Linked DNA regions of Homo sapiens: region 1 is linked to region 2. The links come from fine-mapping of genetic effects on gene expression. Tissue or cell type: whole blood. Region 2 holds a variant in brackets; the other region holds the start of a gene. All regions are shown on one strand. Distances are between the middles of the regions.

Region 1 (8,181 bases), 48 kb after region 2:
AACTCTCCGGTGATTTCTCATTTTATTCAGACAATGGCAAAATCTTTCCAGTGTGCCTACAAGGCTCTCCATGATTTATCCTCTTACCCAACATCTACTTTGGTGATGGTTAATACTAGCTGTTGTAACAAATAAACCCCACAGTACCAGTGGCTTCACACAACTGAAGTTTATTTTTTGTTCACAGGACAGTCCGGTGTGGGTATTCTTGGTCAGCTGGAGCCTTTCCTCCATGTGCTTTACCATTACTTAGAGCCTCAGAATCTTCTAATTCTAGCTGGTAGAAGGCAAAAATAGAAAGAAGGGAGAAGTCTAATCTGCTTCTTAAGTGCCCTGACCTAGCAGTGACATACATAAAGTCCTACACACATTCCATTGTTGAGAACTAGTCACATGGCCACATCTGGATGCAAGTAGGGCTGGGCAGTGTCCCTGAGGAGGCGGGTCCACACACTATGGAAGGGAAAATTGATGTTTTTGAATTGCAAGCCAACTCCACCACACCTTCTACCATCTTCCACCAATCCTCCCCACCCTAACCCTCTCCAGCCACCCTGGCTTCCTTATTGCTCCATGAACACTCCAGGCACACTCTGCCGCACACCCTCTCCTGGAGTTATGTTCCCTCAGATGTCCACTTGCTCTCTCATGTTCCTCATGCTAAAATGGGTGTCCCAGATTGCCACTTATTAAAAGTATATTATGTCCCAGATTTTAAAAATTCCTTTTTCCATTAATTTATGAATCTTCAGTGCAATTCTGTGAGGGGTCAGAATGACTCTTCTCATTTCAGAGTGTTTAACTGATGTACCCCAGCTTACACAGCTAGTAAGAGTGGGAGTGGATTTAAACATTAAATCTTCACGCCTGTAATCACAGCACTTTGGGAAGTCAAGGTGGGCAGATCACCTGAGGTCAGGAGTTCGAGACCAGCCTGGGCAACATGGCGAAACCCCGTCTCTACTAAAAAAAAAATTAGCCCGGCATGGTGGCGCAGGCCTGTAGTTCCAGCTACTCAGGAGGCTGAGGCAGGAAAATAGCTTGAACTCGGGAGGCAGAGGTTGCAGTGAGCTGAGGTTGTGCCACTGCTCTCCAGCCTGGGTGACAGAGCGAGGCTCTGTCTCAAACAAACAAAAAAACATTAAATCTTGGCTTGGCGCAGTGGCTCACGCCTGTAATCTCAGCACTTTGGGAGGCCGAGGCGGGCAGATCACGAGGTCAAGAGGTTGAGACCATCCTGGCTAACAGGGCGAAACCCCGTCTCTATTAAAAATACAACAAAATTAGCCACTACAGGTGGCGGGCACCTGTAGTCCCTGATACTCGGGAGGCTGAGGCTGAGAATGGTGTGAACCTGGGAGGCGGACCTTGCAGTGAGCAGAGATCACCACTGCACTCCAGCCTGGGCGACAGAGCGAGAATTCATCTCAAAAAACAAACAAACAAAAATACAAAAAAAAAAAAAAATTAGCCAGGCATGGTGCGCGCGCCTGTAGTCCCAGCTACTTGGGAGGCTGAGGCAGGAGAATCGTTTGAACCTGGGAGGCGGAGGTTGCAGTGAGCCGAGATGGCGCCACTGCACTCTAGCCTGGGTGACAGAGCGAGACTCTCTCAGAAAAAAAAAAAAAAAAAAAAAGAAAAAATCTTAAGAGCATCCCTTTCTATATTTTCTGACTCTCTAAGAAGCAATCACTCTGCCAAACTTATTTCCTACCGGGAAGGAGATCACTTCACAGTTGAGTATTCTGGGCTTCTGAGCAGTTACATTTCCCAGGGCAAATTAATACAGTTATGCATTCGTTTTTAACTTGTGTTTTACGAGTTGAGTTAATATGAGAGGTCGTCTAGCACCAGATCACCCTGGACACCTTGGATAAAAAGTTTCTGGACTTTTCAGTTGAGGACGTTTATTCCTTTCTCAAATTTCTTTTTCCACATCACCCCTAGAGTGATCATTCTCAGATTTGGGTCAGATATCACTCCTTGGCTTGAATTCCTTTACTTTACCTCACTCATCCTCAACTCATATATCTTATAGGATAAATTATTTCTAAAAAATACTATTTATTTATTTATTTATGACAGGGGTCACATTATGTTCTCCACTCTGGTCTCAAACTCCTGGGTTCAAGCAGTCCTCCTGCCTCAGCTGCCCAAAGTGTTGGGATTACCAGCGTGAGTGTGAACCACGACGCCTGGCCGAGGATAAATTCTTTAGCCTGGTATTTGAATCCATGCCTCCTTCCTCTGTTCTCCTTCTTCCTCCCCTGCCCTGGTTTCATTCCCTTTAAACTCTCCATCTCCCATCTTAATGTTAATGAATTACTTGTTGATGCCTGAACATACCCTTTTATCTGTTGCTCCCTGTTGTTACACATACTGAGTTAAACATCTTTCCCTGCCCCTTTTTACCTGAGAAACTTCCTGTTGATCCTCTGGAACTCAGGTCAGAGTATATACCTCCTTCTGGAAACCTTCCCTGACCATTCCCCAATCTGGAAAGATGTCCTCCTTCTGTGCTCTGTAACTTTCTTTTTTTCTTTTTTTTTTTTCAGGGTGTCTCTGTTGCCAGGCTGGAGTGCAGTGGCGCCATCTTGGCTCACTGCAACCTCCACCTCCCGAGTTTAAGCAATTCTCCTGCCTTATCCTCCTGAGTAGCTGGGATTACAGGCACCACCATACCCAGCTAATTTTTATAATTTTAGTACAGATGGGGTTTCACCATGTTGGCCAGGATGGTCTTGATCTCCTGACCTCGTGATCTGCCTGCCTTGGCCACCTAAAGTGCTGGGATTACAGGTGTCAGCCACCACGCCTGGCATATTTATTTATTTATTTATTTATTTATTTAGAGGTAGAGCCTCATTCTGTTGCCCAGGCTAGAGTGCAGTGGCACGATCTCGGCTTACTGCAACCTCTGCCTCTTGAGTTGAAGCGATTCTCCTGCCTCAGCCTCCTGAGGAGCTGGGACTAAAGTTGCCTGCCACCACACCCTGCTAATTTTATATTTTTGGTAGAGATGGGATTTCACCATATTGGTCAGGCTGGTCTTGAACTTCTGACCTTAAGCGATCCGCCAGCCTTGGCCTCCCCAAGTTCTGGGATTACAGGTGTGAGCCACCACGCCCAGCCTCTGTGACTGTTTAACTCACTAATCCCCCTCTACTGTCTCTGTGTCCCCAGCATGCAGGATACGGGTGGAGCATCACCATGAATGGGCGTTTTGAAGCAACCTTCTCCTCCCCACTTTTCTCCCCCTAGTTCAGGCAGGTTAGATACAGGGAGGAACAGGTGCTATGGCTCCGAGAGACAATGGCTATAACCTCTAGGTAAACCTCCCCAAGGGAAACAATATTTGAGAGAAGTACCCAGGAGAACCTAGGAGAGAGCCTAGGCTCAGCCTTTGGGGAAGCCAGCTGCCTTCTACAGCTCTTAGTGGCAGCCTCCCAGAACAAACCGTAAGAGTACTTCCTTCTGGAACAATAATAATAATCCAGGCTGGGGGCTCATTGGCTCATGCCTGTAATCCCAGCACTTTAGGAGGCAGAGGAGGGCGGATCACCTGAGGTCAGGAGTTCGAGACCAGCCTGACCAACACGGTGAATCCCTGTCTCTACTGAATACAAAAAATTAGCCGAGTGTGGTGGTGCGCGCCTGTAATCCTAGCTACTTGGGTGGCTGAGGCAGGAGAATCACTTGAACCTGGGAGGCAGAGGTGCAGTGAGCCGAGATTACGCCATTGCACTCCAGCCTGGGCAACAAGACAGAACTCCGTCTTGAAAAAAAAAATCTGTAATATTTACTGAGTGATTTCCATGTTCCAGGCAGTATTCTCATTGTTTTACCTGTACTTGCATTTACCTTATGTAATTGTCTCAAAAACCATGACGCCAGGCACTTAGAGATTAACTTGCTCAAGGTCAAAAGTAAATGATCGTCAGGATTGAAATCCGAGCATTTTTTTCTAGAGCCCATGCTAGTGACCACTATACCTGTGTTGCCTTTCTGGCCTCTGATCTCCAGTTTCCAACAAAGACACATCTGCCTAGCTTCTATGGGAAAGGAAATCGGAGGGTCCTAGGACAAGGACCAATAGGTAAGTTTCCCTTCGCCTCCTCCCTATCCTCTTACAGGAAAACAGGTTTAGGGGTGGATCTGAGAGTTTTCACAGAGTGAAGAGGAAGAGGAGCTCCCAAATGGCAGGCGCCTCTGGAGGCTTCCAGAGAAAAAAGGAGAGAGCGTGGGAAAAGGGCAGGCTGGGAGGTGGGAGCGGCGAGGAACGGGGAGCTGACCACAAGCCCAGGATTCCAGACCAGGCTTATGTCTCTTAGACTCAGCGTAACCTTGGATAAGTCCTTGCTTCTTTCTGAGACTCAGTTTCCCCGTCTGTAAAATAAGGGTAAATATAAAACCGGCTCATCCGCCCCTGCCAAAAGAGAGGACAGGGAGAAGGCCCTGTCTGGGGTCTAGGCTGACACGCTGCAGCTAGGATTAGGTGAGCTTCCGAGCTCAGTCGTGAGACCCCATCCTCATGGCAAGGCCGCGCTAAGATCTCTGGACCTCTGCTTGCTGGGTGGGTGGTTGGGGGCAGAGCATGGGCCAAATGCCCGGCTCTGCAGGCTGCGCCCACTCTTCTCGCACCTCCTCAGCCCTCCCTAAAGGAGTCTCAATCCCGGGGGAGTGGCAGTTGCGGGCGACCAAGCAGTCACCGGCTGCGCTGCGGCGACCTCCCGGGAAGCTGCGGCCGGCGGGGTCCGAAGAGCATCACGTCATCCTTTCCCCCAGGAGCCCGCCCCCTCCCAGACGGCGCCTGCGCAGGCGCGGTAGGAGGAGGGTCACGGTGGGGGCTGTCCACGCGCTCTCCGCCCTTCTCCAGGCTCGCTCGGGCCGCGGCGCTCTCGGCTAGCTGCAGCGGCGGCGGCGCGGAGGGGAAGGCATCCAGGATGCGGTGCGGGGCGGCCCGGTGCCCCCCCGCCCCGTCACGGCAGCCGCGGCGGCCGAGGGGACCGGGCCAGGGCCGGGGGCGGCGGCCCGAGCCGCGGTAGCGGCGGCGGCGGGAGGGGCGGCCTGAGGGCGGACGGGCGGGCGCCCGGGTTGCGGGGGCTCGGTGCCGCTCCGCACTGCCCGGCCGGTCTCGGCCCCGGCGCCATGAGTGGCGGCGGCGGCGGAGGGGGCTCGGCGCCCAGTCGCTTCGCCGACTACTTTGTCATCTGCGGACTGGACACGGAGACCGGGCTGGAGCCGGACGAGCTGTCGGGTGAGTGCGCGCCGAGCCCGGGGCGCTTTCCCGCGCCCGCTGTCGTCGGGGACCCCAGAAGAAACCTTCCTTCAGCCCCGCTTTGTCCCGGGAGCCGGGCGAGTGTCGGCCGGGAGGACCAGGGCGGGCGCGGGCGAAGGGGGCTTTGGACTGGAGGGGGGAAACGGATGAGGGGCTCTGAGCCATGAGGGGTCCAAACCTACGGCCCGCTGCGCAGTGGCCACGTCTTCGGCGACCAGAAAGAGGGAGGGTTGTGTGTTCTCAGTTTGGTGTAGGTTGAGTGACTTCGTTTAAAATAAAGGAAAGCTTGTCCTCTGGCACCCATTAGGGAGGGAAGGCGTCCCACGTCCTAGTGAAAGTAAGTTCCACCCAGACTTAAAAAAAAGGAAAACAAAAACTTGGTGAGTTTATCTGGCCACTTCCCAAGAAGCTTGTGATACTAGTTCCTCAAAACCGTTATACCCCAGCCCTGGGCTGGGCCCCCTGAGTCAGATTGCAGCTCTGCGCGTCTGGATGGGATATGAAGTAATAAAGTGAACTTGGGCGGCACCAAGAAGAGTAGGAACTCCCTTAGCCTTGGAAAGGGCTTGTATCCCGGGGCCATGCCTTTTTTGAAAAGTAATTTATGTCCTTTATGAGGACAGAGGCGTTTGTGAATAAAAGGGTAGCAGCATTGTAGTTGGAGAGGCTTGGTGTGTTCTGATGCGTTTCAAGTCATATTTGAAAGGGAAAGTGATGAGGGGAGTCAAAGATGGGGCCCTGACCAGATTTGGCACTCACTGCAGAAGGCCGTGAAAATTATACAGTCCCCGTGAATTTTCCACTGCACTGTCATTGGAGTCTTTGAATTGTAACAGTTTTGAAAATAAGTTTTTGTCTGGAGTTTCCAGTTAGTGGGTTTCAAGTGGGTGGAGGTTTGTCGGGTTGTACTTTAAGGTTGTGTCATCCTGATGAGGGGGACTCCTTTTCACTTTTCTGTCACTGTAAAGTTTCTCTTTCGAAAGTGATTATCCTGTTGACTAATCTTACTCGGCTTCAACGATGACAAGACAGTTTTGTTTTTGGGCACCAGAAAAAGTCCAGTGTTTCTTTTTTTTTTTTTTTTTTTTTTTGAGACGGAGTCTCGCTCTGTCGCCCAGGCCGGACTGCGGACTGCAGTGGCGCAATCTCGGCTCACTGCAAGCTCCGCTTCCCGGGTTCACGCCATTCTCCTGCCTCAGCCTCCCGAGTAGCTGGGACTACAGGCGCCCGCCACCGCGCCCGGCTAATTTTTTGTATTTTTAGTAGAGACGGGGTTTCACCTTGTTAGCCAGGATGGTCTCGATCTCCTGACCTCATGATCCACCCGCCTCGGCCTCCCAAAGTGCTGGGATTACAGGCGTGAGCCACCGCGCCCGGCCCAGTGTTTCTTATGAAAAAAAAATTAGGCGGGGCGCGGTGGCCCACCACCCGGCGGCTCAGGGGTAATCCCAGCACTTTGGGAGGCCGAGGCGGGCGGGTCACCTGAGGTCAGGAGTTCGAGACCAATTTGGCCAACATGGTGAAACCCCCGTCTCTACTAAAAATACAAAAATTAGCCGGGCGTCGTGGCGCGTGCCTGTAATCCCAGCTACTCAGGAGGCTGAGGTAGGAGGATCGCTTTAACCCAGGAGGGGGAGGTTGCAGTGAGCTGAGATTGCGCCAGTCTGGGTGATTGCGCCACTACACTCCAGTCTGGGTGATAAAGCGAGACTCTGTCTGGGAAAAAAGAAAAAGAAGAAAAAAGCATGATAAATTCATGCTTTAACAAGGTTAGAAAAAAATGAGCTATTTCCTCAATAGCAGGTGGAGAAAATATGAAGCAGTAATATAATTAATATTAGGCTTTTTGTCGGGGTAGTTTTATGGTTTCTAATTTACTTTAAAAAAATTTTAGTTTTAGGCCGGGCGCGGTGGCTCACGCCTGTAATCCCAGCACTTTGGGAGGCTGAGGCGGGCGGATCACGAAGTCAGGAGATCGAGACCATCCGGGCTTACAGGGTGAAACCCCGTCTCTACTAAAAATACAAAAAATTAGCCGGGCGTGGTGGCGGGCGCCTGTAGTCCCAGCTACTCAGGAGGCTGAGGCAGGAGAATGGCGTGAACCCGGGAGGCGGAGCTCGCAGTGAGCCCAGATCGCGCCACTGCACTCCAGCACTCTAGCCTGGGCGACAGAGCGAGACTCCGTCCAAAAAAAAAAAATTATTTTGATGAGTACCTAATAATTGTTCAAGTTTATCTTTTAAGGTCTTCAAATTCTTATAGTACAGATGTTTTTCATCTTTTTCATATGTAGTAAGTTTGTGACTTTGATGTAATTTTTGGAATTCGGTTCAGGGTATTGGTGTTGGAAGGGACCTCAGAGGGGAAAATGAGGCCCAGGAAGGACAGTGGGGCCTGTATACACTAGTTAATTGCTTGGTCCAGTGCTCTTCTCATGACATTAAACTGCATCTCATTGGCCTGGCTGGAGGTCTTTAGAAAACACTAACATGTTGAGAAATATTAAAAACAACATAATTCTTCTCAGTAAAAGAAACTAAGGTGGTGGAATAAACTTTTTTTTATGCGTGTTTTTGAGTGTCAAATTGTATGAACACTTGGTTTGAGAAGATAGAATGTTTTGCGAATGATAGAGCATAAGAATGAAGCTGGGAAGTTAACTGTTAGCGAGAGCATGAGTTTAGGGTAATATTCCTGCTCTCCTATTGACTATCTTTGTGATTGGGAGCAAGTTAGAGATAACCCTGTCAGGGTCCTCATCTATAAAAAAAGAATGTAAATAAAAATAATCTCATCAAGTAGACCTTCAAAAATGTTTAAAAACTGTCTTTCAACATTTCATTAAAAAAGAAATGTTACTGTCTTAATGGATATGTGTTAATTATCTGGCTTTTTGGCAAGCT
Region 2 (8,181 bases):
TCAATCCGCCCTCCTCAGCCTCCGAAAGTGCTGGGATCACAGGCATGACCCACCCTGCCTGGACTTAATGTTTTTCTGTCTGATAATTTGCTTTTTCAATATTTGTCTGGAGGCTGGGGCGTGGTGGCTCACGGCTGTAATCCCAGCACTGGGAGGCCGAGGTGGGCAGATCACCTGAGGTCGGGAGTTCGAGACCAGCCTGATCAACATGGAGAAACCCCCCTCTACTAAAAATACAAAATTAGCCGGGCGTGGTAGCACATGTCTGTAATCCCAGCTACTTGGGAGGCTGAGGCAGGAAAATCGCTTGAACTGGGAGGCGGAGGTTTCCGCGAGCCAAGATCATGCCATTGCACTCCAGCGTGGCAATAAGAGTGAAACTCCATCTCAAAAAAAAAAAAAATTTTGTCTGGAATGACTATGTATATATTCATGTAATTAAAGTAATAAAAGTTTAGAGATAGTTCTTCTCATACATAATCTTATATCTGGTATCTTCTTTTTGTCTCCAGTACACTATGCTAGGTCAGGCCAGGATTATTGCAGTAATCTCCTAACTTCTCTTTCTGCTGTTGATTTGGCACACTTCCATAAGGCGGTCAGAATAAGCTTTGAAAATTCAAATCTTTTTTTTGAGACGGAGTTTCACACTTGTTGCCCTGGCTGGAGTGCAATGGCACGATCCCAGCTCACTGGAACCTCTACCTCCCTGGTTCAAGCGATTCTCCTACCTCAGCCTCCCGGGTAGCTGGGATTACAGGCGCCCGCTGCCACGCCCAGCTTTTTTTTTTTTTTTTTTTTTTTTTTTTTTTTTTTTGAGATGGAGTCCTGCTCTGTCACCCAGGCTGGAGTGCAGTGTCGCGATCTCGGCTCAGTGCAAGCTCTGCCTCCTGGGTTCACACCATTCTCCTGCCTCAGCCTCCTGAGTAGCTGGGATTACAGGCGCCTGCCACCACGCCCGGATAATTCTTTGTATTTTTAGTAGAGACGGGGTTTCACCATATTAGCCAGGATGGTCTTGATCTCCCCACCTCGTGATCCGCCCACCTCGGCCTCCCAAAGTGCTGGGATTACAGGCGTGAGCCACCACACCCGGCCACACCCAGCTAATTTTTTGTACTTTTAGTAGAGACGGGTTTTCAAACTGGTCTTGAACTCCTGACCTCAGGTGATCCAACCATCTCAGCCTCCCAAAGTGCTGGGATTACAGGGGTGAGCCAATGTGCCCGGCCAAAAATACAAATCTTACTAAGTCCCTCTCTGGTTAAATATCTTTGAGGATTAAGTTCAAACTTTTAGCAGTTTGTGATAAGGTCCTGGTCTCATATCTTTCGTAGCATTTCTTTCCATTCTCCCACCCTTTGCTTGAAGCTTTTTTTCTAATATAAGCAGTAGCTTCTAGCCTTTGCAAAAGCTATTTTCTCTGCTTTCAACTTTGTTAATTCCTATTCATCCTCTAAAAATCAGTTTTAATCCTGCTTCCTGGGAGACTTTACAGCCCCACTGTAATTTAGATATTCCTCTCTTCTGCTATTGCAATCTGCGCACCCCTCAGTCACTCTTATCACACTGCACTGAGGTTGTTCATCTTTTCCTAATTTTTTGGAATTTCCTAAGTTTTGGAGTTGGCTTTCCCACTGCGCACTCAGATGTCTTAAGCACATTTAATTTTTTCTTCTGTGTGTTGATAATTCATATTCTTTGCCCATTTTTCTGTTGAGTTGTGCTTTCCTTACTGATTTGTAGTAATTCTTATGTGTCAAATACTTCTCAGTGTTTGTTTTTAGTTTTTGTTGTACTTCAATTTTTAATGTTTGCATAGTAAAATATATAAAATGTTTTCTTTTTTTTTTTTTTGACTTGAACTCCCGACCTCAAGGTGATCCGCCCACCTTGGTCTCCCAAAGTGCTGAAATTACAGGTGTAAGCCATGGCACCTGGCCCATAAATATAATTTCCTAAGATTGAAAATTTATTCGGCTGGGCACCATCTCAAAAAAAAAAATTATTCAACAAATTCATTGAATGGCCACTTAGGTATTGGCACTCTGTCAGCTACCGGGGATACAATGGTGATCAAAAAGACAAAGCCCAGCTGGGAGCCATAGCATGGAGCCTGTAGTCCCAGCTACTCAGAGGGCTGATGCTTGAGGATCCCTTGAGTCCAGAAGTTCAGATCCAGCCTGGACAATATAGTGAGATTCCCATCACTTAAAAAAACAAAAAACAAAAAGACAAAGCCCCTGCCTTAAAGCTTATATTCTAAAGGTGGAGGCAGACAATAAACAAGTAAACAAATAGTTCACAGAATTAATTGCTTTTAATGACTATGAAGGAAATAAAATGGGAGCCAGAAGTAGGCAAAGGATGTGTACATAAAACAGTTCAATTGAATGGGTTTCCCATAATTTACTTAACCATTTTTATTTAGTGTTGGATTTTTATATTGCTTTTAGTTTTTCACTGTTATACTAATACAGAGGAATTATTTATGTTTATTTTCATGGAATAATTTCCTACAAATGTAATTACTGAATAGAAACAATCAGGATTTTTTTTTTTTTTTTTTGGGACGGAGTCTTGCTTTGTGGTCTATGCTGGAGTGCAGCGGTGCAATTTCTCACCGCAACCTCAGCCTCCGGGGTTCAAGCGATTCTCCTGACTCACACTCTCGAGTAGCTGGGATTACAAGCCATCATGTCCAGCTCATTTTTGTATTTTTAGCAGAGACGGGGTCTCATCTCACCATTTTGGCCAGTCTGGCCTCACACTCCTGGTCTCAAATGATCCGCCCGCCTTGGCCTCCCAAAGTGTTGGGATTACAGGCTTGAGCCACCGCGACCGGCCTCTAAGTTGCTTTCAAGAGGTAACCACGGTGAGTAAGCTGAATGTGCTCTGAGGGGTAGAAGCAGAAAAAGTTACCTGTGGAAAAGGCATGTTTCCGCTTAGCTTAGGGATAAGCTAAATGTAGAGCTGACTTGGGTTTAGTAGTAAGGGGCAGCAGCTAATGCAAAACCGTTAGCTTTGGGAACAGGACAACCTGGATTCTAAGCCCATTTTTGCCATCCTGTGATCTTCACAGGTTGTACGTAGCCCTCTCTGAGCCTTAGTTTCCTGAAATTCAGGTAGGTTTTGCTCAACCTTTGTATTTCCCACCATCTTTTAGATCAAGCACTCTCTGGCGCCTCCAAATTGAAGACAGCAGCTGCGGAATTGATGTAATGGGCTGAATCAGCCTCAGCCGCGAAATGCCGACTAATCACAGGCAC[C/T]TCCGGCGGCCTGGACAAAAGGTTTGAAGTCCCTGGGACCGCACTTCCGGGTAATTAAGGCTACGCTTTAGACGCCAGGGCCAGCGAGTCGCAGCCGGGTGACTCGAGTGCCGCGACTGCGCATGCTCTCGCCCCAGCGCCCGGCGGCCACCTCTTTCCCGCGGGCGGGCCGGGGCGGGGCACTGAAGGGGGCGGTCCAGGACCCTGACTTGTCTCGCGGTTACTGGGCCGGCGCGAGCACGCGAGGCTCGGGGGCGGCACGGGGCGGGGTTTAGCCTGTGGTGGGCGCTGCGGGTGTTTGCAGGAGGTTGCAGTACTCGCTGGGCTGAGGTCGTCTCGGGTGAGGAGGTCGCGCCGGAAGTGGCTCTAGCCGTGGCGCTTCGGCGTAGTAAGGAGCCTGCAACAGAGTTTTGTTGTTTAGGGGGCGCGGCACCGCACCGCTCCCTTCACCTTGCAGCAGCCATGGCGAAAGGCAGAGTCGCCGAACGATCGCAGTTGGGCGCTCACCACACGACCCCCGTGGGGGACGGGGCAGCGGGGACGCGGGGTCTCGCGGCGCCTGGCAGCAGAGACCACCAGAAGGGTGAGTGGGCCCGGGGAGCAGAGCTGGGGGTGGCCCGAGGCTTCTGTGTGTCGGGTGGGGAAAAGGACCCCCGCTATTCTCGGAGAGTCGCGGGGAAAGAGGGGGGCCTGCTGGCGCCGCGGCGGGAGCAGAGACCGTGGGGGAGTTGGGCTTGGGCGCTCGCGCAGCACAAGGCCGGACGCCGAGTAGGTGCGTTGTAAATGCTGTTTGAGTAGAATTCATTTAAAAGAAGGGATGACACTGGCTTGTTGACGCTCAGGTAGATTGTAAGGTTGATGATAACGACGCTAGGCAGAGCTGGAAGGAGCTGTACTGTGGCATTCGCTGCGTTGTTTTTACAGATGAAGAAACTGAGGCCCAGTGTGGGTATATGACTTATAAAGTCATAAAGCCAGATCAGTGAAGTAGTAGTTAGGAGCGAGGACTTAATACTTCCAGGTGGCAGTACACCTGGGCTTGAGTCCCTGCCCTACTGTTTACTTGGAACCTTGGACTTGGTAACTTTCAAAAAAAGCTCAGTGTCTGAACTGTGAAATGGGGATAATAATAATATCTACTTAATAGGTGGTGCGTGGGTTAAACGAAATAATTCACGTAAAAGATTTAGAGCAATGCTTGGATATGAAGTGGGGGCTAAATAAATATTAGCAATTACTTAGTTACAGCTAAGGTCACTCATTCTAAAGTTTATTTCCCCACTACATCATCCTGACATTTCTCACGGCTTTATTTTTGGTTTTTGTTTTCTCTTTATTCCTACTGCCTCTATAATTGCAGAATCTCACGGCTTTAAATATTGTTTTAAGGAAAAAACTGTACGTAGAAACTAAATACTTTGATTCCGTGTTGGCCTGGAATCGTTCTTTAAATGATTTTAAAGCTCATAAACTTAAAGTGATCCTAACAAGTTTGTCTGTAGCTCACATAGGTGTGTTCCACCACCAGTGATGGCTAGGAGAACTTCTAAGAGTATGTAGTAGAAAATGTTAATGTATTTTCAAATAATTTAAAATGTCTCCAACAGTCTAATTTGGCTCTGTCAGCCTTATGTTTTTGGGTATTTTTCCAGCTTATATACACTGGATCCAGGTGACTTCATATAATTTCAAAAACTGAGAAATGAATCGTTGTTAATGTATAAATCAGCTCTGAATAAAAGAAAGATTGTTTTGAAGACTCTACTACTGAGGGTGACAATATTCCAAGGTCTGGGTTTCCTGAAAAAGTGTTCCAGATAGGGCATCCCTAAAAATTGACATCTCATTTGAGGTAGCAGCCAGTTGTATTCATGATTTTTACCTAAAGCTATTCAAAAAATAAAACCTTGAAACTTCCAAAGTGCTCTTACTTTTTAATCTTATTTTATCATTACAACAAAACATTCAACACAATTATTCTTTTTTTTTTTTTTTTTTTTGAGACGGAGTCTCGGTCTGTCACCCAGGCTGGAGTGCAGTGGCGCAATCTTGGCTCACTGCAAGCTCCGCCTCCTGGGTTCACGCCATTCTCCTGCCTCAGCCTCCCGAGTAGCTGGGACTACAGGCGCCCACCACCACGCCGGGCTAATTTTTGTATTTTTAGTAGAGATGGGGTTTCACCTTGTTAGCCAGGATGGTCTCGATCTCCTGACCTGTTGATCCGCCCGCCTCGGCCTCCCAAAGTGCTGGGATTACAGGCGTGAGCCACCACGCCTGGCCTACAATTATTCTTATGATGCTGTCCCATGACATCTATAGATCACAAATCTATAGGAAGACAGGGAAGAGATGTGAAGGCGTGCCTTCACTTCATGATGAAGTAAGGCCTGTTTTTAGTGACTTGAGACAAGGCCTCGCTGTGTCACCTATGCTGGAGTGCAGTGGCATGATCATAGCTTGCTGCAGCCTCAGCTACCTGGGCTCATGCGATCTTCCCACCTCAGCCCCCTCAAATAGCTGACTACAGGTGTGTGCCACCATGCTCAGCTAATTATTTGTTTTTTGTAGAGAAGGGGCCAGGGTGTCTTGAAGTCCTGGGCTCAAGCGTCTTCCTGCCTTGGCCTCCCCAAATGCTGGAATTACAGGCATGAGCCATTGTGCTTTGCCAGATAAGTAAGGTTTGGATAAGTAAAGAGAAGGGAAGGGTATTCCAGGCTAGGAGAAAGAGAGTAGTAGGGTTGAAGGTTAGTGTGAAACTTTTATGTGTGTGGGTAGGGAGATTAATTTGTCAGGAGCAGAGGGTTTCTGTTGGGTGGTAGTAGGCGATGAGGTTGGCCTGTTCAGGATGTGTCAGAATGTTCCTGTAAATTCCATGATACTTGGAAATGAATTTGTATTCTATTAAGTGACACATATATAACTTTGACAAATAAGTAGTTATCATCATATGTATGTTTGAACTGTTTTACATGCTATCTGCAATGTTTGGTACATTTAGTGGATTCCTTGCCATTACTCTGGCCTCTAGTCTCAGAGCTAAGCCTAGTAGACTGTGGACCACTTTGACTACTTGAGTAAGGCAGAGGTAACACGGAAAGTCTAATTTTTGCATGATGAAGATGAGAGAGCAGACAGGAGGTGAAACTAGTTAAGAAGCTCTTGAGAATGCATCAAGCCCAGGCAGCAGTGGAAAGGCTGGAGGACACACCTAAACATGTGGAATCCCAGTGCCAGGCAGCCAGGGCCAAATCCATATCCACCCAACATTGGGTGCCCTGGAGGTTCCAATCCTGCCCACTCACCACCTATCAACCCACCCTTTCCCCCAGGCCCCTGTCCTCCTCCCCCAGGAGCTCCGCAAGGCAATTCAGCTTTCCCCCCAGGTTGGCCCCCTCATCCTGTGCCACAGCCAGGGTATCCAGGATGCCAATCCTCGGGTCCCTACCCTCCTCCATACCCACCGTCTGCTCCTGGAATGCCTCCTGTGAGTCCCTTGGCTCCTGGCATGGTTGGACCAGCAGTGATAGTGGGCAAGAAGATACAGAAGAAAATGAAGAAAGCTCATAAAAAGATGCACAAGCATAGCAAGCATTCCTCCTCCTCTTCCAGCAGTGATTCTGACTGAATACAGGCCCTGGGTCCTTCCCTCAAGTCTCACCAGTTCTGCTCTCCTATCAAGCTTCAGATGCCATGTTGTATTGGGGGAAAGTAGCCCTTGTGCTCCCCACACCCTACCCCCGCCTGAGCTTCACCCTGCTGTTGAGCCCTGAGTGGCTAGGGAAAATGGGAAGAGAATTGGCATGGCCTGGCCATCTTGTTGTTGCTTGGATAGATCATATAGCTAATGAGTTTAGCAGGGGAGCTGTTTTTTGAAGATGATGAACTAAATGTTGAAGACAAGTTTGAGATCTGTAAAATGTGATTTTTTACTTCTGCTTATAATACTCATGATTGGGGAGGATTGTGGAAATTTAATTATGATGAAAAACCTCTATCTTTTTTGTAATGTTGGCATACTTGGGGAATTTAGTGGAAAATACATTCCCCAGCAGGCCTTTTGTTGGTTGCACTAACTGCAAGGTTGCTGGGAAGTAGAGTCTGTTTGGTCGATGAGCTTTGACTGCCATTTTGGAACCTTACCTCTCCTCCTTAGCCCAGTATGCTATCTCAGGTCCTATTCTTGTTCTCCAGCTCTCAGTCCAAATAAAGTTATTTCTCCTGGTTAAAAAAAAAAAAAAAAAAAAAAAAGGGCTCTTAACCTAATCGGTTTGAAGGTGACTGGACTAGAGTACATAACTTTTTTGGTGGTGTTTGCCCCGACCTATGTATTTACTAGCAAGTTCTCCATTTTAACTTAAGAGAGCTGGACTATGTTTTTCAATATATAAGTCATGACCCTTGTGAGGGGTGTGAAATCAATTTGATGGATAATCAATAATAAGCATTTTTTTAAAAAAAATGGAATAGAAGAGAAAATATCAGTGCTTTGGGATTAAATGCTGGTTTTTTTTTGTTTAATCTTTCCTTGAGTTATATAGATTTTGTGTATACCGGGTCATGTACATTACTTAGGCTGACATGGTGGCTCATGCCTGTAATCCCAGCACTTTGGGAGGCCGAGGCGGGCGGAACATGAGGTCAGGAGTTCAAGACCAGCCTGACTAACATGAAGAAGCCCTGTCTCTACTAAAAATACAAAAATTAGCTGGGCATGGTGGTGCACACCTGTAATCCCAGCTACTTGGGAGGCTGAGGCAGGAGAATCACTTGAACCCAGGAGGTGGAGTTTGCAGTGAGCCAAGATAGCGCCACTGCACTCCAGTCTGGGTGATAGAGTGAGACTCCATCTCAAAAAAAAATAATAATAATAATAATACATTACTTGGAACACAATCAAAAAAGATTGAAAAAC

Evidence for each region. PIP is the estimated chance that this variant, and not a neighbour inherited with it, causes the effect.
Region 1: DENND5A starts here. The variant in region 2 is fine-mapped to the expression of DENND5A in whole blood (TOPMed, PIP 0.91).

The regions. Positions count from the first base shown.
Region 1 is chr11:9,262,037-9,270,217 of GRCh38, reverse strand. DENND5A (DENN domain containing 5A) reads left to right here and starts at 4,868. Exons shown (of 23, transcript NM_015213.4): 1 at 4,868-5,257. The coding sequence starts at 5,149. RefSeq lists enhancers at 4,567-4,636, 5,717-5,836, 5,997-6,336 and silencers at 4,917-5,016, 5,067-5,426.
Region 2 is chr11:9,309,992-9,318,172 of GRCh38, reverse strand. TMEM41B (transmembrane protein 41B) reads left to right here and starts at 3,580. Exons shown (of 7, transcript NM_015012.4): 1 at 3,580-3,852. The coding sequence starts at 3,732. It also overlaps the pseudogene PRR13P2. RefSeq lists a silencer at 3,241-3,590 and enhancers at 3,356-3,871, 3,872-4,389. The variant C/T (reference allele first, on the strand shown) is at 3,270.